Linked DNA regions of Homo sapiens. The protein of the gene in region 2 interacts with the protein of the main gene of each other region in a pairwise test. Each region holds a gene or a part of one and is shown on either strand. Other genes may lie near its edges.

What was found. The genes of interacting proteins can lie anywhere in the genome.
Region 1: the proteins of CATIP (region 2) and MEDAG interact in binary tests that used the Homo sapiens proteins (3 or more experiments, as listed by UniProt).
Region 3: the proteins of CATIP (region 2) and HESX1 interact in binary tests that used the Homo sapiens proteins (3 or more experiments, as listed by UniProt).

What each region holds. Positions count from the first base shown.
Region 1 is NC_000013.11:30,902,032-30,909,270, forward strand, and holds the start of MEDAG (mesenteric estrogen-dependent adipogenesis protein), read left to right. Parts: upstream 1-4,239; 5' UTR 4,240-4,484; coding exon 4,485-4,762; intron 4,763-7,239. UniProt on the Homo sapiens protein: Involved in processes that promote adipocyte differentiation, lipid accumulation, and glucose uptake in mature adipocytes.
Region 2 is NC_000002.12:218,351,624-218,360,221, forward strand, and holds the start of CATIP (ciliogenesis-associated TTC17-interacting protein), read left to right. Parts: upstream 1-5,233; 5' UTR 5,234-5,261; coding exon 5,262-5,286; intron 5,287-5,438; coding exon of another isoform or gene 5,439-5,471; coding exon 5,472-5,564; intron 5,565-5,910; coding exon 5,911-6,111; intron 6,112-6,290; exon of another isoform or gene 6,291-6,343; intron 6,344-6,362; exon of another isoform or gene 6,363-6,413; coding exon 6,414-6,469; intron 6,470-8,598. UniProt on the Homo sapiens protein: Plays a role in primary ciliogenesis by modulating actin polymerization.
Region 3 is NC_000003.12:57,197,338-57,204,233, forward strand, and holds HESX1 (homeobox expressed in ES cells 1), read right to left. Parts: upstream 2,642-6,896; 5' UTR 2,582-2,641; coding exon 2,425-2,581; intron 1,616-2,424; coding exon 1,416-1,615; intron 1,156-1,415; coding exon 1,054-1,155; intron 959-1,053; coding exon 860-958; 3' UTR 501-859; downstream 1-500.

The sequences.
Region 1 (7,239 bases), on a different chromosome or scaffold from region 2:
GAGCATAGCCACAGACTCACCAATGGGTGATTGCCTTGCTATAAAGTCTCTAAATTTGAGTGGTAACATTATAGCTAAACTGTTAATCTCACTTGTAGCGTAAATAGCTGTGAGGTACCCTACCCCAACTGCAAAGATTTAAAACCATGAAAAATCACTGCTGGTGAGAAGACAAATTGGTGCCAGCCTTTAGGAGAATAATGACACACGTTTCCAGAGCAATGCACATTCTCATATCATTTGTCCCAGTAATTCCATCTCTGAGAGCTTGGATACAGAAAAACGAAATCAAAGTATGAAGATGTTTATTGCAGCATTGTTTATAAGGAAAAACAAGAAACAATCTGAGTGTTCAAGAGTAAAGAAATGTCTAGACAAACAATAGAATATACACTTGATGGAAAATAGCATAGTGATTTAAAATACTATTCACAAAGAAAATGAAATTTTCACAACATAATATACATATAATGTTAAATGCACAAAGCCGAATAAAAATTCTACGATAGGAACACAACTATGTAAGCAAACCAAAAAAAGACTGAAAAGGTCGTCACCAGGAGTGATTGTTTGCCTGGCTGGTACTTGGGTAATGAAAAAGACATTAAACATGAAAAGATCTCTCTAGCTCTCTACTTATTAGCAATGGCTTACATTACATTGAATACTATTTTTTTTCTGTTCACTTTTTCATATCTTTCTCTGGCATTTTGGTAATGCATAAATTACCCATAAAGAAATGCAGGTGTTTTGCTGAAAACGCATCAAATGAAACCTCTAGACAACATACCAAGAAAGCATCTTTAAAATATTTTTATTATGCTCAACATCATTTTTCTGTATAAAACAATACACATTTATTTGGAAAATACAGGAAAAGTGTAAAATCACACAACTGTGGTGAGGTAAAGAAAAATTTCGTTTAATTCTTCTACTCAGATCTAAGTGTTGATATCTTACTATGAAGGAAACGGATTTTTTTTTTTGAGATGGAGTTTGACTCTTGTCACCCAGGCTGGAGTGCAATGGCACGATCTTGGCTCATTGCAACCTCTGCCTCCCAGGTTCAAGCGATTCTCCTGCCTCAGCCTCCCAAGTAGCTAGGATTACAGGCATTCAACACCATACCCAGCTAATTTTTGTATTTTTAGTAGAGATGGGATTTCACCATGTTGGCCAGGCTGGTCTGGAACTCCTGACCTCAGGCGATCCACATGCCTTGGCCTCCCAGAATACTGGAATTATAGGTGTGAGCCACCGTGCCTGCCCAGGAAACGGTTTTTTGATAGGAGGGACTGGTATGTTTATCTTAAACAAATGCATATAATTCTGATATAAAACCCCGATGTAACATTTTACCCTTCAAGAAAGCCAAATCATTCATAGACAGTGTGGTGTAGGTTTAAGGGCAATCAAGAGTTGTTGAGCTTGATCTATGTGAAGCTCATAGGGTGAGTTGTTGAGTTCGATCTATGTGGAATGGGGAGAGTAGGGGCTGGTGAGGGCTCTGTAGTGGACCTGCCCTCCTTGACTTACTAATTGAAAGCAACTTCTGCAGCTGTTATTGTTGTTGAGGTTGTATTCCACCAGCAGGTTGGAGACACAGGCAAAATATAACTAGATTTCAGCCACATGTTTGGACATGGTGCCAGAAGACTAGTTCATGCTGATTCCTGCATTTCTCCCTGTTATTTGAGGACAGGGGCCATCCTCTATTCAACTCTGTATCTCCAGCAAAGCACTGAACATAGCAGATGCTCAATTAACATATGTTGAAGTAAACTAAAGGCCTGGGTTCAAATTCCTACCCTATCATGTATTAGCTAGATGCCCCCATCCACTTCTTTGGCTTCAACCCCGTCTTTGATCTAGAGACTTTCAAATCTCAATCATTGACCTTGTCTTTCCAAAACGCCAGACCCAACTAACTCCTTGCCTCCTGGACTTTTCTACCTTGATGTTCCATAAGTAGCTCAAAATCAGTATGTCCCCCCTGAACTCATCACTATCTCTCCTCAAACTCCTACTCTTCCTCCTGTGAACCCTAGCTTCGTTAATGGTGTCACCATCTCTCTGGGTACCCAAGCAAGAGACTAAGTGGGTCTCTCTGCTCTTTTTCATTTATTTACTCATAAGATCCTTCCTGCTGACTCTGACTCAAAAATGTTGAAACCTCATCTCCATTCCCACAGCTGCTTCTGTTCAGACCCCCATCATATGTTATCTGGATTATTACATCAATCTCCTAACTGGTTTCTCTGCCTCTGATCTTCCTGTTTCAAAACATCTTCTTTGGTCATAACCAAAGGTGTCTATCTGAACTGAGGCATAATTATATCACTTCCTTTCTTTAAAACATCCCAAGGCTCCTCATTGTCTTAAGAATCCAAATTCCTGACAACTCAGAGGGTCTGTCACAATCTGGCTCCAACAGCCCTTTCTGGTCTCATCTCATATAAAACTGACCCCTCTTATCCCAAATAGGATGGTCTGCCCTAGCTGTTTAAAAATTTCCCCCCTCCCCCAGATGGAACCATAGCATCTCTCTTTGCATAGAATGGTACAGAATCTTCTCTCCCATCTCCTTATTGCTGCTGCTCCTTCCCCTGGGAGCCTCCCCTGTGTATTGGAAGTCTAGCCATGTGTCACCTCCTTTGAGCACCCTTCTTGGGGCAGAACCACTTATTTCTCATAGTGCTTAGTCCATACATCTATGGTAGCACTTATTGGATCCTTGTGTGTGTGTGTGTGTGACCTCAGAGCTTAAGATGGTCCCTGGTGCATAGTGATGACTCTGTCAATGTTTGGGACAAGAGTGAAGTTCTAAATAGGGCACAATGGATTTAACTGCTGGCACCAAATCCCTCCCCTGTGAAAACAGCCCCAGCCTCTGAGTCCTGTCTACAGTCTCAGCCCACCCCAGACCCATTCTCTTTGCAGGGATCCTCAAACCTCCCTTTGCAAGAAGATCTTCTGGATGCTTTTTTCACAGGTAGAGCATCCTTCCTGCGCCACAAAAGGTTGAGTGGGTAGTGATCAATTCATGCTCAGTGAATTAGATTTGTTCAGAGAGGCCCAGAGATGGGGTAATGATCCCATGGGTAAAAGATCCATGTCTGGAGAAAGGATAGGTGTGCACCTAGAAGAAGAGAAGAGAGTGGGGCTCATTTATATTCTGAGATTTAAATGAGATGTGGCGGGAGGACTCTTCATCCCATCTGATTAAACCTACACAAGAGTTCATGTGGGGGCACACAAAGACTAACTAAGGATATTCTCTACGTTCTACTCAACTTTTGGGATGTAGCTTAGAATCCTAAAACACAGTACTACAGAAAGCCTCGAAACTAGGCTAGATTCTCCTCCCATCCCATCCAGGCTTCTCCGCAGCAGAAATAGGTGTTTAATTAAATGGAATAATATAGTTCTCCTTTCATACCTCAGGAGATCAATGAGCCCATAGCTAGCACTCACATATTTATAGACTGAAGAAATGAACATATTCTGGGGCTCAAGGAGATCACCACCTACTGGGGAGGCAGGGGAGAAGGGAGGATGCTAGGACCCTGCTATCCCCACTACACGGCACATTGCAGTCTAGGGTTCACCGTGCAGTAGAAAGGAGAAGCAAAGCGATGAAACCCTCGTGGGATTCGTGAAGGCTTTATGGAAAAGCGATGTGATGATCAGTGGGATTTCTAGGGGGAAGGGATCCAGGGCCAGCAACCAGCTGAAGGAAAGGCTGAAAGGAGGGAAATGCAGGGTACGATCTGGATGGAGTTAAAATGGCAGAAAACTGAGGCTGAGTGAGAGGTCTGGTACTGAGGTGGGGATCGGAGTTCCAGCACTGGCCTTTGACAGCCTCTGGGTCCCAGGTGGAATGGGTAGGGCCAGAGCCCTTGCCTTCTTCTCCAATCAACACCAGGGGTGTGGTGTCTTAGGCAAGGATGGGTGCTGTGCGCCCTGCCGCCCACCATAGGCAGGGCCTGGGAACCCGGGGAGGACTCTCCCCACCTCCAGCCTCCGGCAGTGTCCGCCAGGCAGGGCGGGGGCCAGCGCTGGTGTTGAGTAGTGGACCCCAGGGGGATGACTAAGCCTTGCCTGCGAGCAGACTCGAGCATGCCAAGTTATGAGACGATGATAACTCTGCCCCGAGCCTCTGGGGTCGTGGCCGTGGGCCGGCAGGGGCGAGGCGGGCGTCCAGAGGGCGGATAAAAGGGGCCGCGCTGCGCCGGGGCCGCTTTCTCCGCGCGGTGCCTGCAGGGCTCCCAGCGAGTGGCAGCTTGGGAGGGGCCGCCCGGGCGGTCAGACTGGCACCTGAGCGGCCACCGCGTCCCGGCCAGGCGGGCAGACCGACCCCCTCCTCACCTCGCGCGCGGCTGACGCAGGCAGGGCGCCCGGCCCCTCCTGGGGACCATCAGGTGCCGGCTGGGGGCTGTAGGCACCGGACGGAAGCAGGCGGTGTGAGGACCGACGACGCGGGCATGGCGGGGGCGGCCTGCGAGCCGGTGGCCAGGCCGAGCCTGACCTCCATCTCGTCTGGGGAGCTTCGCAGCCTGTGGACCTGCGACTGCGAGCTGGCCCTGCTGCCGCTGGCTCAGCTGCTGCGCCTGCAGCCCGGTGCCTTCCAGCTGAGCGGCGACCAGCTCGTGGTGGCCAGGCCCGGGGAGCCGGCGGCGGCGCGGGGGGGCTTCAACGTCTTCGGTGACGGCCTCGTGCGCCTCGACGGGCAGCTCTACCGCCTCAGCAGCTACATCAAGAGGTGGGTGGCCTCGCCGTGCGCCCTGGCCCGTCGCCTGGTACCCGCAGACGCCTCCACCCGGCTGCGGTCTCTGGGAGCCTGGGCTGTCCTCGCTGCCTGCGACACCGCGTGGCCCCTTGCTCCGTGCGCTTCTAGACTTTCCTTCTGCTTCTATCACCCGGAGCCTGCACGCTCGCCCTGGTTCTTCTGCCTCTTGCACTGACATTTTGCAGCTGCTGCTTGAAGCCGCCCAGAAGGGCATCAGGACTGGGGGCGAGGGGGAGGGCAGGGGCCCCCCAGCCAGAGCTCATGAGTGGCAGATGCTTCTCCCATTCTGGCTCCTTAACTGGGTCAGATGAGCTCAAATTGGGAGCACACCCTTTAGGGGCTGTCTGCAGCTCTGCAAGACTCACATCCTGGCTTTGGAGCATGGGTGGCGGTGAGGAGCAGGGGGCATGCACCATTCTGAGCACTGCCAGCCCTCTCCAGTGAGGAGACCGAGTGGAGAAGCATGCAAAAGCTCAAAGTTTCCCATCTCTGGCCTCACTTCGTGTTTCAAAAGTAAACAAATAAACCGCAGCTGAGAAGGGAACAAAGCCCCTGGAAGTCCAGCCCGGGGCCATGTGGGCTGTGGAAGGCACAGATAAGTTCTGGGGAAATAAGTGCGAAACCTGAGGGCCTTAATGGGAAGGAGGCCCCCAGGATGCTTGACTGTTGTGGCCAGAGTGCCCCCAAGCTCTTCTTGGCAGACCGGCAGGATGTGGCCCAGCCATCTGAAGCAGGCTTTGGTGCCACAGGGTAAAGGAGGGCACTTCAGGCCTGATTCCACATGGCCTCAGGCCTCCAGAGTTCACTCTTGGCAAGGGCCTGGAGTGCAAAGACCTGTTATATTTGTGCTGAGAGAGCCAAGTGCCTGAAGAGGCAAGCATGGTCTAGAGTTTGACTCAGAAATGAATAAGATAGCCAGCTTTTGAGACACAGCGCCTTTGCTACTGGGAAAGACAGCGTGCTGTGGCACCCTGTGGGTAGGAGGGAGCCAAGAGAGGGAAGCAAACAAAATGAGATATTGAACGTGCAGTCTTCAAAACTCTTGGAGAAAAAACCTTGCTTTTCCAAAGATAGTGAGGGCTCTGAATGCCTGAAGAACCATTCCCCAGCAAGAATTTCTCCCTTTCTTAGTGAAATGAAAATTCCAATTCCAAACCATAAGCGGAGGACTGTGGGAGGAACTGAGTCAGATGTGTGCAGATTTAAAAAGAAGATACCCATTGTATTTGAGAGCAGGGTATGAAAAATAAAAATGTCCAGAATGAACGAAGCCGTAAGTTAGGGTTTTGACAGAACCAGTTCTCCTAATTGTAGCAAACAGTGCTGCAGAATCTGAAATGATTTTGAAGTCTGTCATCTAACTTTTGCTTTGAACACCTCCTACACAAAAGAAAATTAAACAACAGTGATTCCCCTGACAGCTTTGAATCTAGAATAAACAACTGGGCCACAGTGACCAGGTAACACAGACCAGGGTGCAAATACAAAACAACAAATAATAGGCTATCATTGTATAAGCAATACTGTGAGGGCTTCTTTTGTACCTGGGAAATAGCAAGGAGCCTCTGAAAATAATTTGGGTGATGGAAGGAGCTATCTATTGTCCTCAGGCAGGGAAGGAGGCTTTTATAACTGAGTGTGCAGTCCTGAAGGATGGCCAGGAGGGAATGTGGTCTAAATGGAGACAGCCTTCCAGGCAGAGGGGGAGGACTGGACTGTGGGCAGCAGTGAGAGGTTCTGCCCTCGGGAATCAGGAGGTGGGAGGTATGCCGAAGCCAGAACTCAGATATCTAAAGCTTCGTTCCTCTGAGCTGCCAAATTTGCCAGTTGTTTTTGGCTTTAGAGATAGCATAAAACCTCCCTCCCTCCCCTCCCTCCCTCCCCACTTCCTTCCCTCTCTCCCTCCCTCCCTCCCTTCCTTCCTTCCTTCTTTTTGAAAAATAAGCTCTGGCCAGTTTTATTAAAGATTTGCATGATTTATTTTCACCAGTCTGTTCTGGCATGCTTCCAAAGATCTCAGGGCTGGGTGCAGTGCCTCATGCCTGTAATCCCAGCACTTTGGGAGGCTGAGGTGGGCGGATTGCTTGAGTCCAGGACTTCGAGGCCAGCTTGGGCAACATAGTGAGACCTCCTGTCTACAAAAATTAGCTGGGCATAGTGACATGCACCTGTGGTCCCAGCTGCTCAGGAGGCCGAGGTGGGAGGTGGATGGCTTGAATCTTGGAGGTGGAGCTTGCAGTGAGCCGAGATGGTGCCACTGCACTCCAGCCTAGGCAACACAGTGAGACCCTGTCTCAAAAAAAAAAAAAAAAAAAAAAAATCTCAGCATTCCCTGGATCAGTGACACCAGGGTGCACTTGCTATGGTATTTTCCACATGCTGTGCCCAATTTAATGTTATTACTGCTGGAGTGGTAGATGGCAGTTTTGAGAGTATGCACCTTAGTTCTG
Region 2 (8,598 bases):
GCTTGCAGTGAGCCGAGATCGCACCACTGCACTCCAGCCTGGGCCACAGAGTGAAACTCCATCTCAAAAAAAAAAAAAAAAAGAAAAAAGAAAAGAAATAGCACTCAAACATAAATTTAATTTTCTCAGCAAGGCAATTTTACTTCCATACAAGGGTGTGTCTCACGGATGGAGCAATGGCGAGAGCACACCTGAACAAGGGAGGGGAAGGGGTTCTTATCCTAACTCAGCTAGTCCCTACTGCTGTGTCTTTCCCCTATTGGCTAGGGTTGGACCACACAGTCTAAGCTAATTCTGATTGGCTATTTTAAAGAGAGCAGGGGTATGAGCCAGAGTGGTGGGATAGGTAGTTTGGCAGGAAGGATGGTTACAGAACAGGTGACTCAGGATGACTAACAACAGAGCAGGTGACCAAGGGTGACTAAGTTCAGAGCAGGTGATAGAGGCTAGGAGGGGGTTGTTTACTGTAACTAGGGGCAAGGAGATGTAAAGAACGAGAAACTTTAAAATGAAGAACAAAGAACAGGAGAGCTGAATATACTGATACATTGGTTCTTTGAAGAGGATCTCAGAACTCATTGTGCTTAACAATTTATAGGCTAAAACCTTTGAAGAGGAATTTATTATATCCTACAATCTTATACTTGGCCTGATTATTTGCGTAAAGTGCAGCAAGAATGGTTATTTTTACTTACATAGGCCTTTTGCATTGGCTTTAATGAAACTCTGTTTCACAAGGAATTTCAGATAAGACTTTTAAAGCCAAGCCCAGCCATGGGTTTGTATCCTCTAACACCTGTGAGTTGGGTGATCCTCTCTTGAGGTCCCAAGATAAACTCAGAGCTTCCAGACCTGTTACAAAGTTATGTGTCTGTTCTTTTACCAGTACCATGCTGTTTGGTTACTGTGGCCCTGTAGTGTAGTTTGAAGTCAGGTAGCGTGATGGATGCAGCTTTATTCTTTTTGCTTAGGATTGCTTTAGCTATTTGGGCTCTTTTTTCATCTGATATTAATTTTAAAATAGTTTTTTCTAGTTTTGTGAAGAATGACAATTGTAGTTTAATGGGGACAGCACTGAATCTATAAATTGCTTTGACTAGTATGGCCATTTTATGATATTGATTCTTCCTATCCATGAGCGTGGAATGGTTTTCCATTTGTTTGTGTCATCTCTGAGTCCTCTGCACAGTGGTTTGTAGTTATCCTTGTAGAGATCTTTCACTTTCCTTGTTAGCTGTATTCCTAGGTAGTTTATTCTTTTTGTGGCAATAGTGAATGGGAGTTCGTTCATGAATTGGCTCTCTGCTTGCCTGTTGTTGGTATATAGGAATGCTAGCGATTTTTGCACGTTGATTTTGTATCCTGAGACTTTGCTGAAGTTGCTAATGAGCTTAAGAAGCTTTTGGGCTGAGATGATGGGGTTTTCTAGATATAGGATCATGTCATCTTCAAACAGGGATAGTTTGACTTCCTCTCTTCTTATTTGAATGCCCTTTTTTTCTTTCTCTTGCCTGACTGCTCTGGCCAGAACTTCCAATACTATGTTGAATAGGAAAATATAAATTTTAAAACATAAGTATTGGCTGGGCACGGTGGCTCACGCCTGTAATCCCAGCACTTTGGGAGGCTGAGGCGGGCGGATCACGAGGTCAGGAGATCAAGACCATCCTGGCTAACGTGGTGAAACCCTGTCTCTACTAAAAATACAAAAAAATTAGCCAGGTGTGGTGGCAGGCGCCTGTAGTCCCAGTTACTCAGGAGGCTGAGAGGCAGGAGAATGGCGTGAACCCGGGAGGCAGAGCTTGCAGTGAGCCGAGATTGAGCCACTGCACTCCAGCCTGGGGGACAGAGCGAGACTGTCTCAAACAAACAAACAAAAGTATTTTTAAAACTTTTAAGTTCAACTTACCAGTCATATAATTCTCATCATAAATCTAGTGAATGTTAACATTTTTTAGAAACAGGGTCTCACTATGTTGCCCAGGCTGGTCTTCAACTCCTGGCTTCAAATCATCCACCCACCTTGGCCTCCCATGGGATTACAGGTGTAAGCCCCTGCACCCAGCCAAGGGGGCTTTAATTAATAATTGGTTGGTCTTCTTTTCAAAATTAAAACTGCTTTAGGCAGCTTATACTGCAGTTGTTCATCCAATATATTTTATTTCCTTTTTTAAAGCGATTGATTGATAAACCAGCCTCCCAAATACCTTTACTGCAACCTAATAAAAGTAAACATATAAATACAGTAAATCTTAATTTTATTTTTTTTAATGTTCTGGTTCTACTTGCAATCTCAATAAGAAACTTTAAAATTCAAAATCAATTATTCAATAACCCAATTTAAACTTGAATCTGCAGACGTATCTTTTAAGCACTCTAATATACCAATTTTAAACATTTTAAGAACCTGAAATAACAGAGTTCTTTCCTTTCGCTGCTGCAGCCGCAGCCATAAATATGCTCAGGCTTTAGAAGAGGTTCGCTTCTAGTGTCCTCTGCTGTGGCAAGAAGGTCTGGTTGGACCCCAGTGAGACCAATGAAATCGCCAATGCCAGCTCCCATCAGCAGATCCGAAAGCTAATCAAAGATGGGCTGATCATCGGCAAGCCTGTGATGGTCCATTCCCAGGCTCCATGCCAGAAAAACACCTTGGCCTCCCGGAAGGGCAGGCACACGGGCATAGGTAAGCGGAAGGGTACAGCCAACGTCCGAATGCCAGAGGTCACGTGGATAAGGAGAATGAGGATTCTGTGCTGGCTACTCAGAAGATACCGTGAATCTAAGAAGATTGATCGCCACATGTATCACAGCCTGTACCTGAAGGTGAAGGGGAATGTGTTCAAAAACAAGCGGATTATCCTGGAACACATCCACAAGCTGAAAGCAGACAAGGCCTACAAGAAGCTCCTGGCTGACCAGGCGGAGGCCCGCAGGTCTAAGACCAAGGAAGTGTGGGCAGAGGATTACCCAGGTGCCGAGGCAAGAGACTGAAGGCACAGACGGTTTCAGTATAATAAAGAAAATAGTTAGAATAAGAATAGTCATAATACAAAGTAGATATAGAGATGATCATGGATAATTATCAATCATTATTATAAACATTATTAATCATTAGCTTTTAATATTACTCTTTGTTGCATTACTAATATAACCTAGGAATAACCGGCGGGTATAGGGTCAGGTGCTGAAGTGACATTGTGAGAAGTGACCTAGAAGGCAAGAGGTGAGCCCTCTGTCACGCCCCCATAAGGACCACTTGAGGGCTCCTTGGTCAAGCGGTAGTGCCAGTGTTTGGGAAGACGCCCATTACTTAGCAGACCGCGAAAGGGAGTCACCTTTCCTTGGAGGAGTCAGGGAACACTCCGCTCCACCAGCTTCTTGTGGAAGGTTGGATATTATCCAGGCCTGCCCGCAGCCATCCGGAGGCCTAAACCCCTCCCTGTGGTGCTGTGCTCCAAAGGTCACGCTCCTTGTCCACTTTCATGTTCCTGCCGTACTCCTGGTTCCTCTTTGAAGTTTGTAGTAGATGGCGGTAGAAGAAATAGTGAAAGTCCTAAAGTCTTTGATCCTTCTTATAAGTGCATAGAAGAAAACGCTGATGTATGCTGCCGTCTCTCTCTCTGCTTCGGCTACCTAAGAGGGAAGGGCCCCCTGTCCTGTGATCATGTGACTTGCTTCACCTTGTCAATCACTTAGAAGACTCGCCCTCCTTACCGTGCCCCCTTGTCTTGTGTGCAATAAATATCAGCGCGCCCAGCCGTTCTGGGCCACTACCAGTCTCCATGTCTTGATGGTAGTGGTCTCCCGGGCCCAGCTGTTTTCTCTTTGTCTCTTTGTCTTGTGTCTTTATTTATTACAATCTCTCGTCTCCACACACAGGGAGAACACCCGCTAAGCCCCGTAGGGCTGGACTCTACAGGTGGATCACTTGAGCTCAGGAGTTCAAGACCAGCCTGGCCAACATGGTGAAACCCCATCTCTACTAAAAATACAAAAATTAGCCAGGTGTGGTGGCGGGTGCCTGTAGTCCCAGCTACTTGGGAGACTGAGGCAGGAGAATCACTTGAACCTGGCAGGAGGAGGTTGCAGCTGAGATCATGCCACTGCATTCTAGCCTGGGTGACAGAGTGAGACTCTTTCTCAAAAATAATTAAAACAAACAAATAAATAAATAAAAATAATAAAAATAAAAATACAAAAATTAGCTGGGCATGGTGGCACACTCCTGTAGTTCCAGCTACTCAGGAGGCTGAGGTAGGAGAATCACTTGAACCCAGGAGGCAGAGGTTGCAGTGAGCCAAGATGGCGCCACTGCACTCCAGACTGGCAACAGAGTGAGACTCTCTAAAAAAAAAAAAAAAAGCGCCTCACCAGGAATAAGTCCAGTCAAAGAGTTTGCTATGTTGTCATTGTTGTTATCATTATTGTTACATGTATTAGAACTGTAACTTGCAGAGATATTCATGTAGCAGCTAATTGGATAGTGTGCATTTGAGACTCTGTCTGACTTTCGTTCATATCTTCTAAGGTCATTTTTTTTTTTTTGAGACAGATTACAGGCATGTGCCACCACTCCCTGGTAATTTTTGTATTTTTAGTAGAGATGGGTTTCACCATGTTGGCCAGGCTGGATCTCAAACTCCTGGCCTCAAGTGATCCACCTGCCTGGGACTCCCAAAGTGCTGGGATTACAGGTGTGAGCCACCACACCTGGCCTCTTCTAAGGTCATTCTAATGACCCATTTCTTCACTCTGCCTCTTAAGAATATCAAATGTGGGCCAGGCGCGGTGGCTCACACCTGTAATCCCAGCACTCTGGGAGGCTGAGGCAGGAGGATCACGAGCTCAGGAATTCAAGACCAGCCTGGCCAATATGGTGAAACCCCATCTCTACTAAAAATACAAAAATTAGCTGGGCGCGGTGGTGTGCGCCTGTAGTCCCAGCTACTCGGGAGGCTGAGACCTCAAGAAGAATTGCTTGAACCCGGGAGGCAGAGGTTGCAGTGAGATGAGAATGCGCCACTGCACTCCAGCCTGGGTGACAGAGCGAGATTGCGTCTCAAAAAAGAAAAAAATATATATCAAATGCTCCCTCTGCTGGACAACACCTCAAGCTTGTGCTGAGCCCCAAACCTGCAGTGTCAGTTCCCTCCAAGGTCTGGGTGTAGTAAAGTGGGTTGATGGCCCTTTAAGAGGCACTGTCCAGCTCTGGTTGCCATGGAGACAGCTGGACACAGACCGGGTAGAGGCAGGCCCACAGCATGTCCTCCAAGGTTTACTCCACAGGTGGGAAGAGGACTGCTGGGGCTGGAGGCGGGGATCCTCTTCTTTCTTCCCAATCCACCCTCGGGGTAGTCTTAGAGGATTCTGTTCTTGGGTGCTGGGGCCAGGACTGAGGTACCCTGCCTTGCCTCCCTGACCCCTGCCCTTCTCCCCAGGGTCTGCCATCTTAGCCTCTCATCCCTCTGTAGGCTCCAGAGCTAAGGACCACCAGCCCTCGGGTCCGGAGTGTCTGCCACTCCCAGAGGCCAATGCTGAAGCCATCGACTTCCTCAGCTCCCTCCGTGAGCTCAGACAGTGTCGGGGTTGGGGGTGCGGGAGGGGTGCAAGTCTGGAGAGGAGGGAAGAAAGTCCAGTCTCTCTCTCTCTCTCTCTCTCTCTCTCTCTTCCTTGATTCTCCTGGGACTCAGAAAAGGCCTGAGGCCTGTTTGTTGACATTCTTCAAGGGAAGGCCCCCCGGGGACATGGGGACATGGGGCAGGAGTCTTCACCTGTCCGTGCCAGTGAGGAAGGCTGTGGGATGAGGAGGCAGGTGGGGACTGTGGGGACACTGGTGGTCATGGGGTCAGAGGATTGGATTGGGGCCCAGGAGCAGGGGCTTTATCTGTTCCCACGGGCCCCTCACCCCAGACAAGGAGGAGCTACAGATGCTGTTCTTCTCTGAGACGCTGGCCATGGTCTCAGACACCGGGGAGCCTCAGGGAGAGCTGACCATTGAGGTGCAGAGAGGGAAATACCAGGAAAAACTCGGCATGCTGACATACTGCCTCTTCGTGCATGCCTCTAGCCGAGGCTTCTTGGACAAAATGCTCTGCGGAAATTCCCTCCTGGGTAGCGTTCCTACTGCCTGATGCCCGTCACTCTCCCCTTCCTCCAACCCTCCCCTCCACCAATTCCTAGAATCTTTTTTCAGGACCAAGCCCTTGGCTTTGCCTTGGACCAGGACAAGGCACGGGGTGGGAGAGGGATGAGCGAGTTCCTCATGGACTCGGGATGAGGGCACATCTTACCCATCCTGTAGTTTTTCTGGGACCGTATTACACCTAGTCCTCCAGCTGCGCCACCACCTTCCCTTCCTTCAGCCTCTGACCCACATCTCCTGTGACGTCAATGCCTGTGTCCCTGCACCCCAGGCTATCTCTCAGAGAAGCTGGAGCTCATGGAACAGCACAGCCAAGACTTCATCAAGGTACTTCCCAGGGCCCCAGCCTTGACCCAATCCAGGGGAGAGAAGACAGATTTTGACTTAAAAAACAGCAGCAACAACAAACCAAAAAACCTATTACATACACAGTGAAGCTGAAGAATAGCAATCGTGTTATGATGCAATGTAAAGCTCAAAAGCAACGCACTTCAGAAAACTGATTTTAAAACACGGGGGTGGGCTGGGCACAGTGGTTCACACCTGTAATCCCAGCACTTTGGGAGGCAGAGGTGGGCGGATCACCCTGAGGTCAGGAGTTCGAGACCAGCCTGGCCAACATAGCGAAACCTCATCTGTACAAAAATTAGCCAGGCATGGTGGTGCACGCCTGTAGTCCCAGCTACTCAGAAGGCTGAGGCAGGAGAATCGCTTGAACCCAGGAGGCAGAGATTGCCGTGAGCCGAGATCGCGCCACTGCACTCCAGCCTGGGTGACAGAGCAAGACTCCGTCTCAAGAAAAAAATTAAAAAACAATGAGGGTGGGCCAGGCACAATGGCTCAAGCCTATAATCCCAGCACTTTGGGAGGCCAAAGTGGGAGGATCCCTTGAGCCCAGGAGTTTGAGCCTGGGCAACATGGCAAAACCCACCAAAAATGTTTATAAATTTTGTACAAAAAATACAAAAAGTAGCTGGGTGTGGTAATGTGTGTCTGTAGTCCCAGCTACTTGGGAGGCTGAGGTGGAAGGTTCAGCGGAGCCCAGGAGGTCAAGACTGCAGTGAGCAATGTGCGTGCCACTGTACTCCAGCCTGGGTGACAGAATGAGACCCTGTCTCAAAAAAAAAAAAAAAAGAAAAAAGAAGAAAAAAGATGTAGGTTGGGCACGGTGGCTCACGCCTGTAATCCCAGCAATTTGGGAGGCTGAGGCAGGCGGATCACCTGAGGTCGGGAGTTGAAGACCAGCCTGACCAACATGGAGAAACCCTGTCTCTACTAAAAACACAAAATTAGCCGGGCGCAGTGGCTCACACCTGTAATCCCAACACTTTGGGATGCCGAGGCAGGTGGATCATGAGGTCAGGAGTTCAAGACCAGCCTGGCCAAGATGGTGAAACCCTACCTCTACTAAAAATACAAAAAGAAAATTATCCAGGCATGGTGGTGGGCACCTGTAATCCCAGCTACACGGGAGGCTGAGACAGGAGAATTGCTTGAACCCAGGAGGCGAAGGTCGCAGTAAGCCAGGATCACACCACTGCACTCCAGCCTGGGCAACAGAGCGAGACTCTGTCTCAAAAAAAAAAAAAAAAAAAAAAATGTTGGGGATGGTTTCTGGTTTCTGTGGGAAGGTTTTTAGACTTGAGTAGTTTCCAGTGTGTAAACAGGTCATGTTCACATTCCACAAGTTAATTAAGTGGCTGGGGCTGGGTGTGAGGGGCACAGAGCTGGGAGACTTGGAGGCCAGGTGAAACAGGCCCCCAGGGAAGGCTAGGCTCTGGGAAAGGCCAGCCCACCAGGCCTCCAGGGAGGCACTGGGCTCTCAGGCTGGAGGAGGGCTGGTGTGGGCTGGGTTCAGAGTTTGGGTATCAGGAGAACTTATCAGTGGCAACCTGCTGTCCCTGCACCTGGCCCACCCCCATCTTTTAAAACCAGTGTTCTGAAGTGCACTGTTTTTGAACTTTATATTGCATCATAACACGACTGCTATTCTTCAGCTTCACTGTGTATGAAAGGTGTTTTTTGGTTTTTGTTGCTGCTGCTTTTTTTTTTTTATTTTATTATTATTATTATTTTTGAGACAGAGTCTTGCTCTTATCACCCAGGCTGGAATGCAGTGGTGCAATCTAGCTCACTGCAACCTTCACCTTCCGGGTTCAAGCAATTCTCCTGTCTCAGCCTCCCAAGTAGCTGGGAATTACAGACATGCACCACCACACCTGGTTAATTTTTGTATCTTTAATAGAGATGGGGTTTTGCCATGTTGGCCAGGCTGGTCTTGAACTCCTGACCTCAAGTGATCTGCCCGCCTGGGCCTCCCAAAGTGCTGGGATTACAGGCATGAGCCACAACACCTGGCCCTGCTGCTTGGTTTTTTGTTTGTTTGTTTGTTTGTTTTTGAGATGGAGTCTCAAAAACAGCCTGTTGCCCAGGCTGGAGTGTAGTGGTGCGATCTC
Region 3 (6,896 bases), on a different chromosome or scaffold from region 2:
TTTTTGTTACTTAGAAAGCACCTTGATTATTTCCAGTGACTATGTCAGAGCACTTACAAAAGGTGGGTCAGTTATCCTACCTTCTCAGTCAACTTAATATTGCAGTTGATTAGAAATCATTTAAACTGGAAATAGATATAAGCTACATGATCACTATCACTAATGAATGAAAGTAAAGTACAAAATTAAACTAGAAAACTATTTAAAATTTTGCATTTATTTGCTGCTTACTTCTTTTGTGCAATTCAATACCAATGGTATAAATATGATAGCTGATGCTTGTATATTTCTACTTTGGCATAATGACTTTGCTTGGAAAAAAAACTTGAAACTAACATACTGTAAGAATTTGTTCTGATAAATGGTGAGAAATTCTCACTGCTTTATGCTATAAATCAAGAGAAGTTGAAGATTCATGAATAAATCATAATTTATAATATAGTGAAGCATAATTATGTTTCAAAATGTGCATGGAAGAAACTAATGAAAACAACTCACACTTTTGTTCTTCAGATTATTTTACTTGAAATACTTTATAATTAGAATCCAGCTTGTGGAATCACTTAGTCATGAGTCTATTGATTTTAACAAACTAATTTATTAGATTAATTTGGCTTACTTAAAAAATAGCAATCTTTTCTGAAAATGTTTATTAAAATATATATAAAAGGTCTTTACTATAACTAAAAGTGCCCAAATATGTACCATGCTATAATAGTATTTACAATATATTTTCAGAAAAAATGACAATATTCAGATTAAATGCAGGAAAGAAAACATCACATTTTAACACTTAATATTTCCACTGATTCTTCATGCTCTGCAATTAGAAGATAATTTCACTTGTTTAGTTTTCTATCTATTCCAGCAGATTTGTGTTGAAATTTTTTTTCGCCATTAGAAACTGTGATTCTCTATGGGACCTTTTCAGTTTTGCACGCCGATTTTGAAACCAAATCTAAAGTTAAGGAAAAATAAAATAGGTCTCAGAAACATTATTTTATTATTCTTAACATTTCAACATCATGAATAACAACTAAATTTGAAAATTACCTGGATTCTGTCTTCCTCTAGATTCAATTTTTGAGCTAAGTCTTCTCTAATATCGATACCAGGATAGCAGTTTACTCTAAAGACATTTTCTAACACTTCAATCTAAGAAAAAAAAATGTTGATATTCAGTATGTCTCCAAAAATGAGCTTTAATTTCTAGAGTAAAATGACTACATTTAAATCTTGGCAATTAATCTGGATGCCTTTTTAAAAATGATTACCTGGAAATTGTTAAAATATGGTAGTCTACTGTTTCATTAATAAGGCTTCTAAACTGAGATACCAAAGTGAGTGGGCTTTTGCTCAACTTGGTGTCAATTAAAGCCTTTATATTATCATTATTGGGTGAAAAAACTTCCCACCTGGTTTTGAGTAAAAGCAGTTCTTGGTCTTCGGCCTCTATACCAACTCAACTCTCTTTTCAAAGACAGTCTTTCTGAGGCTGAAAAGTAATTTTCATATTTCGAAGCTCTTTCTTCTGGCATTGGGTGATCCACCACGCTAGGGAATGAAATCCCACTGGGAGGATTTGGGACATGTAGACATAAGTTACCATCTTTCCCTAAAAACAAAAAAATAAGCCCTGTCTTAGATGGTCAATCTTATGTTCCACAAAGTTCTATAGAGGTAGTTTCAGGAACTCATCTTTCATTTCCTAGTGGAATTCTGGGGTTCACAAGAGAATTGCACCCCGTTAACCAAAAACCAATAAAAAATGAAGATCCTGTCTTGGTAATCCTGCCTCTTTGGTCTCTGAATGTCGTTTATTTTTCAGTGAAAAGAGATTTCAAATATCTGATGTGTCAAACAGGGAGAGATCTTCTGAAGTAAATGCAGGTTCTTGGGATTTCCTGTGAGTGAATTTATCCACTTTGCTCAATCCAAAGCTGATATTCTTTTAATTTCCCATAGGACTCAGTTGGAGGCATTAAAAGTCCTAGACTCTGGCTGGGCGTGGTGGGTCATGCCTGTAATCCTAACACTTTGGGAGGCTGAGGCAGGCGGATCACCTGAGGTCAGGAGTTCGAGACTAGCCTGACCAACAGGGTGAAACCCCCCTCTACTAAAAAATACAAAAATTAGCAGGCCATGGTGGTGCATGCCTGTAATCCCAGCTACTTGGCAGGCTGAGGCAGGAGAATCGTTTGAACCCAGGAGGCGGAGGCTGCAGTGAGCCAAGATTATGCCATTGCACTCCAGTCTTGGCAACAAGACCAACACTCTGTCTCAGAAAAAAAAAAAAAATAATAAATAATAATAATAAATTAAATTAAAGTCCTAAACTCTAGCTCTATGTAGTATGAAATAAAGGGCAAATTAAACACTGTAAATGAAATAACAAAGAATTGAAACAATTAAGCTGTGGCATACCTGATGAGCTGCAGGTGTCTGCCCAGGGCCTGTGGGGTTTCATTAATGGAACACAGTCTTTCTTCTGGTCCAGTCCTAAGATTCTCTCAATTGAAAAGGAGCAAGTTGAGGGTTTGTTTTCCCCGAGCTGAGCGCCTTCCTGAAGGCTGGGAGACATCCTCTCGTGGTCTGCACAGAGCAACAGCTCTGGCCTCTGCTGGCTCTGCCCCACGTGTATAGGGCTGGGATCTTCCTGCAGTTCACCTTATAGCTCCGCTGACAAGGGGGCTGGATTTAGAACGTCACTAATTAAAATCCTGTCTTAGAAAGTTTTAGCATGTCAATGAACACTTGCCCAGCCAGCAGCTTAAGGAGTTAATTGTTTATTTGTTTGCAAGTAATTAGCAACTAATGGCTACACCAGGGGGGCCACCTACAGGGACAAAAAGTGTTATCTCTCCTAAGCAGAACACAGACTTAACTTTCTCTAAAGAAGTGATGCACAAATGTGGCACTTATCTTTTATTTGAAATCATTAATGTATAAAATCAAGCTTTTTATTCTGAAGTTTATACTTTCATGGGCTCCAGTTACCTAAACATACAGGCAAGATACGAGAGCAGTCGAGTAATAAATAATCTAATTTAAGTAAATTTTCTTCCAAGGAAATGGGAAAAAATAATAATCTCTTAATGCTATTACAGTAATTCTGATGAAAATGCCTGTTTTTCATATGCATATGTAATAGGGAATGTTGTCAATGAAAACACAATAGTATTTGGAGTGCAGCATAGTGGAAAAGGTTGGCAATGTTATTAACATGGAGTGTAATTGTCTTCCAAGTGCCTGGATTAATTCATAGGAACAGTTGCACCAAGTATTTTAAATAATTAATGGGCTAATTCCTTTCCTTCCTCTTTTCTTTTAAATGAGAGAGATACATGTTTATATGAAGGTTCATATGTAATCACCTTCAAGCAACTTAGAAGCATGACTACTTAAAGTGAATAATTTCTCTATCACAGTTATTTCAAAGAAAAGAACATAGTTTGCTTTCTAAAGAAAAATTTCCGTCTGTTGATCTTTTGAGGGATGGGCAGAGGATGGAGTCTTTCAAGATGGTAAGGCTTATGAAAATAACCAAGAACAGAATGTTTTAATTTCATAATCCTAAGAAAACTTGAAATTAAAATTAAAGTATAACTGCTGATTGGGAAGATTTTGAACTGGCTGTTCCCCCCGCAAAGGTATACTTGTAGTTTTTATACTCTGCTCCTCCTCTTCTTCCAGTACCTTCCTGAAGATAAATTTAAGTGCTTAGCTTTATTCATTATTTAAACAACTGCTGTTCTTTCCTTCAGGGAAGGGAAAAACAGTCTCCACTCATAGAGGAAATAGCCTCTATAGGATGGAGCTCATCTTCATCAGCTTTTATCCTATTATGATCTCACAAATATTGAGCTAAATTCCTCCTGATGAAAGCTCTCGGGTAAATAAAGGATCTCACATGCAAAACATCAACAGGCATATGGATTTATAAATGTACGTGTAAAACCATTCTGCGGATGAATAAACCGGTGAACATTTATACCTCATGGAGATTTTGTATATAGTGCTGAGATGTAGATTGTGCAAAGGTGGGGGGTATCTTAATCTGGGACGACTAGGAGGAAGCGAGAGAATACAGGACCTTTTCAGCTTTCTTTCTCTCCTTTGAGACATTCATTATTTCCTTCCACAATTGGTTGAGCACCTTCTCAGAACCAGAAAAAAACAAAATACTATCCTTGCCTTCATAGAGCTCACAGTGGTGCAGGGTGGGGGGCAGGAAACAAATAATAATTATAGGTAAATTATCTAGTATGTTAGCCAGGGTAAGAATGAGAAAAGGAAACAGGTGAGCCAGGTAAGATGAATTAGTGCAGGAAGTGGAGGGGTAGATGTCAGTGTAGGCCTCACTGAGCCCCTGAGCCCCGCAGATGAGTGCCTAAGAGGCACAAGGCAGAAGGATGCCACAGCGCATGCCAGAGCAACTCCAGTTTTCAACTTCTTCTTTATTAACAAAGATGTTCCAATATTTTTATTCAGCTTAAATTGATTTTCCTTGGATTTACATATCTATATCTATCTATCTATATCTATCTATCTATCTATCTATCTATCTATCTATCTATCTATCTATCTATCTATTTTTTTGAGACAGAGTCTTGCTCTGTCGCCCAGGCTGGAGTGCAGTGGTGTGATCTCGGCTCACGGCAAGCTCCGCCTCCCGGGTTCACGCCATTCTCCTGCCTCAGCCTCCTGAGTAGCTGGGACTACAGGCGCCCGCCACCACGCCTGGCTAATTTTTTTGTATTTTTAGTAGAGACGAAGTTTCACCGTGTTAGCCAGGATGGTCTCGATATCCTGACCTCGTGATCCGCCCGCTTCGGCCTCCCAAAGTGCTGGGATTACAGGCTTCAGCCACCACGCCCGGCTGGATTTACACATATCATTTTATATATGGATGAGTAGTTGAAAATAAAAGGCAGGAAAAATTATCTAAAAATGTGAGGGAAGCATTTTCTCATATACTCACTCAACAGATTTTTGTTTGTTTGTTTGCTGGTTTGTTTGAGACGGAATCTCACTGTTACCCAGGCTGGAGTGCGGTGGCGTGATCTCGGCTCACTGCAACCTCCACCTCCTGGGTTCAAGCAGTTCTCCTGCCTTAGCCTCCTGAGTAGCTGGGATTACACGTGTGCACCACCAAGCCTGGCTAATTTTTGTATTTTTAGTAGAGATGGGGGTTTCACCATGTTGGCCAGGCTGGTCTCAAACTCTTGACCTCAAGTGATCCACCTGCCTCGGCCTCCTAAAGTGGTGGGATTACAGGTGTGAGCCACCACCATGCTTGGCCTCAACAGACTTTTACAGGGCACTTAATATGTGCCAGACATTATTATAGGTGCTAGAGATCAGTGACGAACAAAACATGCTAATTTCATGGCATGATAAATACATTGAAAGGAGTGAACAAGGTGATGGAGATGCAATATAATGGCAGAGGGTGACTTAAAATACAGAGGTCGATGGTCGATGGTGGAGGAGGGCCTAAGGAAGTGACATTTTCACTGAAGCTGAGCTAGCATGCCAAGAGCCTGAGAAAAAGCACTGCACTCAGAGACAATGGCAAGTACAAAGGTCTTGCAGTTGAAAATCACTTGGAATGTTTGAGGAGGAAGAAGGCAGTAGTTGGAGTGAAGTCAGTGGTACCAGGTGCATTTGGAGAGCCAGGCTAGGCTGGATAATGGATGGCCTTTATAAAGGACATGGTAAGGAGTTCCAGTGCAAAGAGAAGCCAGGGTAGGGTTTTAAGCTGGGACCAAAATGATAGAATTTGTTTTTAAACCTTACTCTGGCTGCTCTGTGGAAAGGGATTAGAGAGAAGTGAGTGCAACCAGGGAGATCAGTTGGGGAGTTATTTATTCAACACATAATTTGCTAAGCATATACTACTTGCTAGGCATTGTTCTAGGTGTGAGGGATACAGTGGTGAAAACAAAGACAATTGTTTAGCGGCAAAAGATGATGATCCTTTGAAAAAAGCGTGAGGAGAGAGGGTAGATTTGGAGAGAAGTGCAATTCTTTAGAAGGTTATGGGAGATAGAATAATTGAATACTTGGTCCCAATTCTCCAATCCCCATAATATCTTATACAACCATCCCCTTGCTGTGGTTTCATGGTGAATACAGTATACCTCCTACCTCCTGATTTTGGGCTTGTTTGTGGGAAGTGATGTGAGCAGAAGCTCAGTGTGCCCATTTAGGGGTTTTGTTTTTGTTTTTTTTTGAGACAGAGTCTCACTCTGTCACCCAAGCTGGAGTGCAGTGGCGCAACCTCTGCTCACTGCAACCTCTACCACCCAGGTTCAAGTGATTCTCCTGCTTCAGCCTCCCGAGTAGCTGGGACTACAGGTACATGTCATCACACCTGGCTAATTTTTGTATTTTTAGTAGAGATGGGTTTTCACCATGTTGGTCAGGCTGGTCTTGAACTCCTGACCTCAAGTGGTCTGCCTGCCTCAGCCTCCCAAAGTGCTGGGATTCAGGCGTGTAATTTGTATTTTCAGTAGAGACGGGGTTTCACCATGTTGGTCAGGCTGGTCTCAAACTCCTGACCTCAAGTGATCTGCCTGACTCGTCCTCCCAAAGTGCTGGAATTACAGGTGCCCAGCCCCCTCTTGTGCTTTTGACTTCACTGTGAGATCATCCCTGAGATAGCTGCTGCCCTACAGCCTGAGCCCCAGAATGAACACACATGGATCAGATCCTAATCCATCTTGCAGCCTGCAGCCAAGTCAGCCAAGTCCAGCCAATCTCAGCCAAATACCAACTGACCTGCAGTTTTGTGAGAAACATATTCATTGTTTAAGCCACTGAAGTTTTTTCTTTTCTTTTTATTTTATTTTATGTTTTTTTAGAGATAGGATCTCACTATGTTGTCCAGGCTG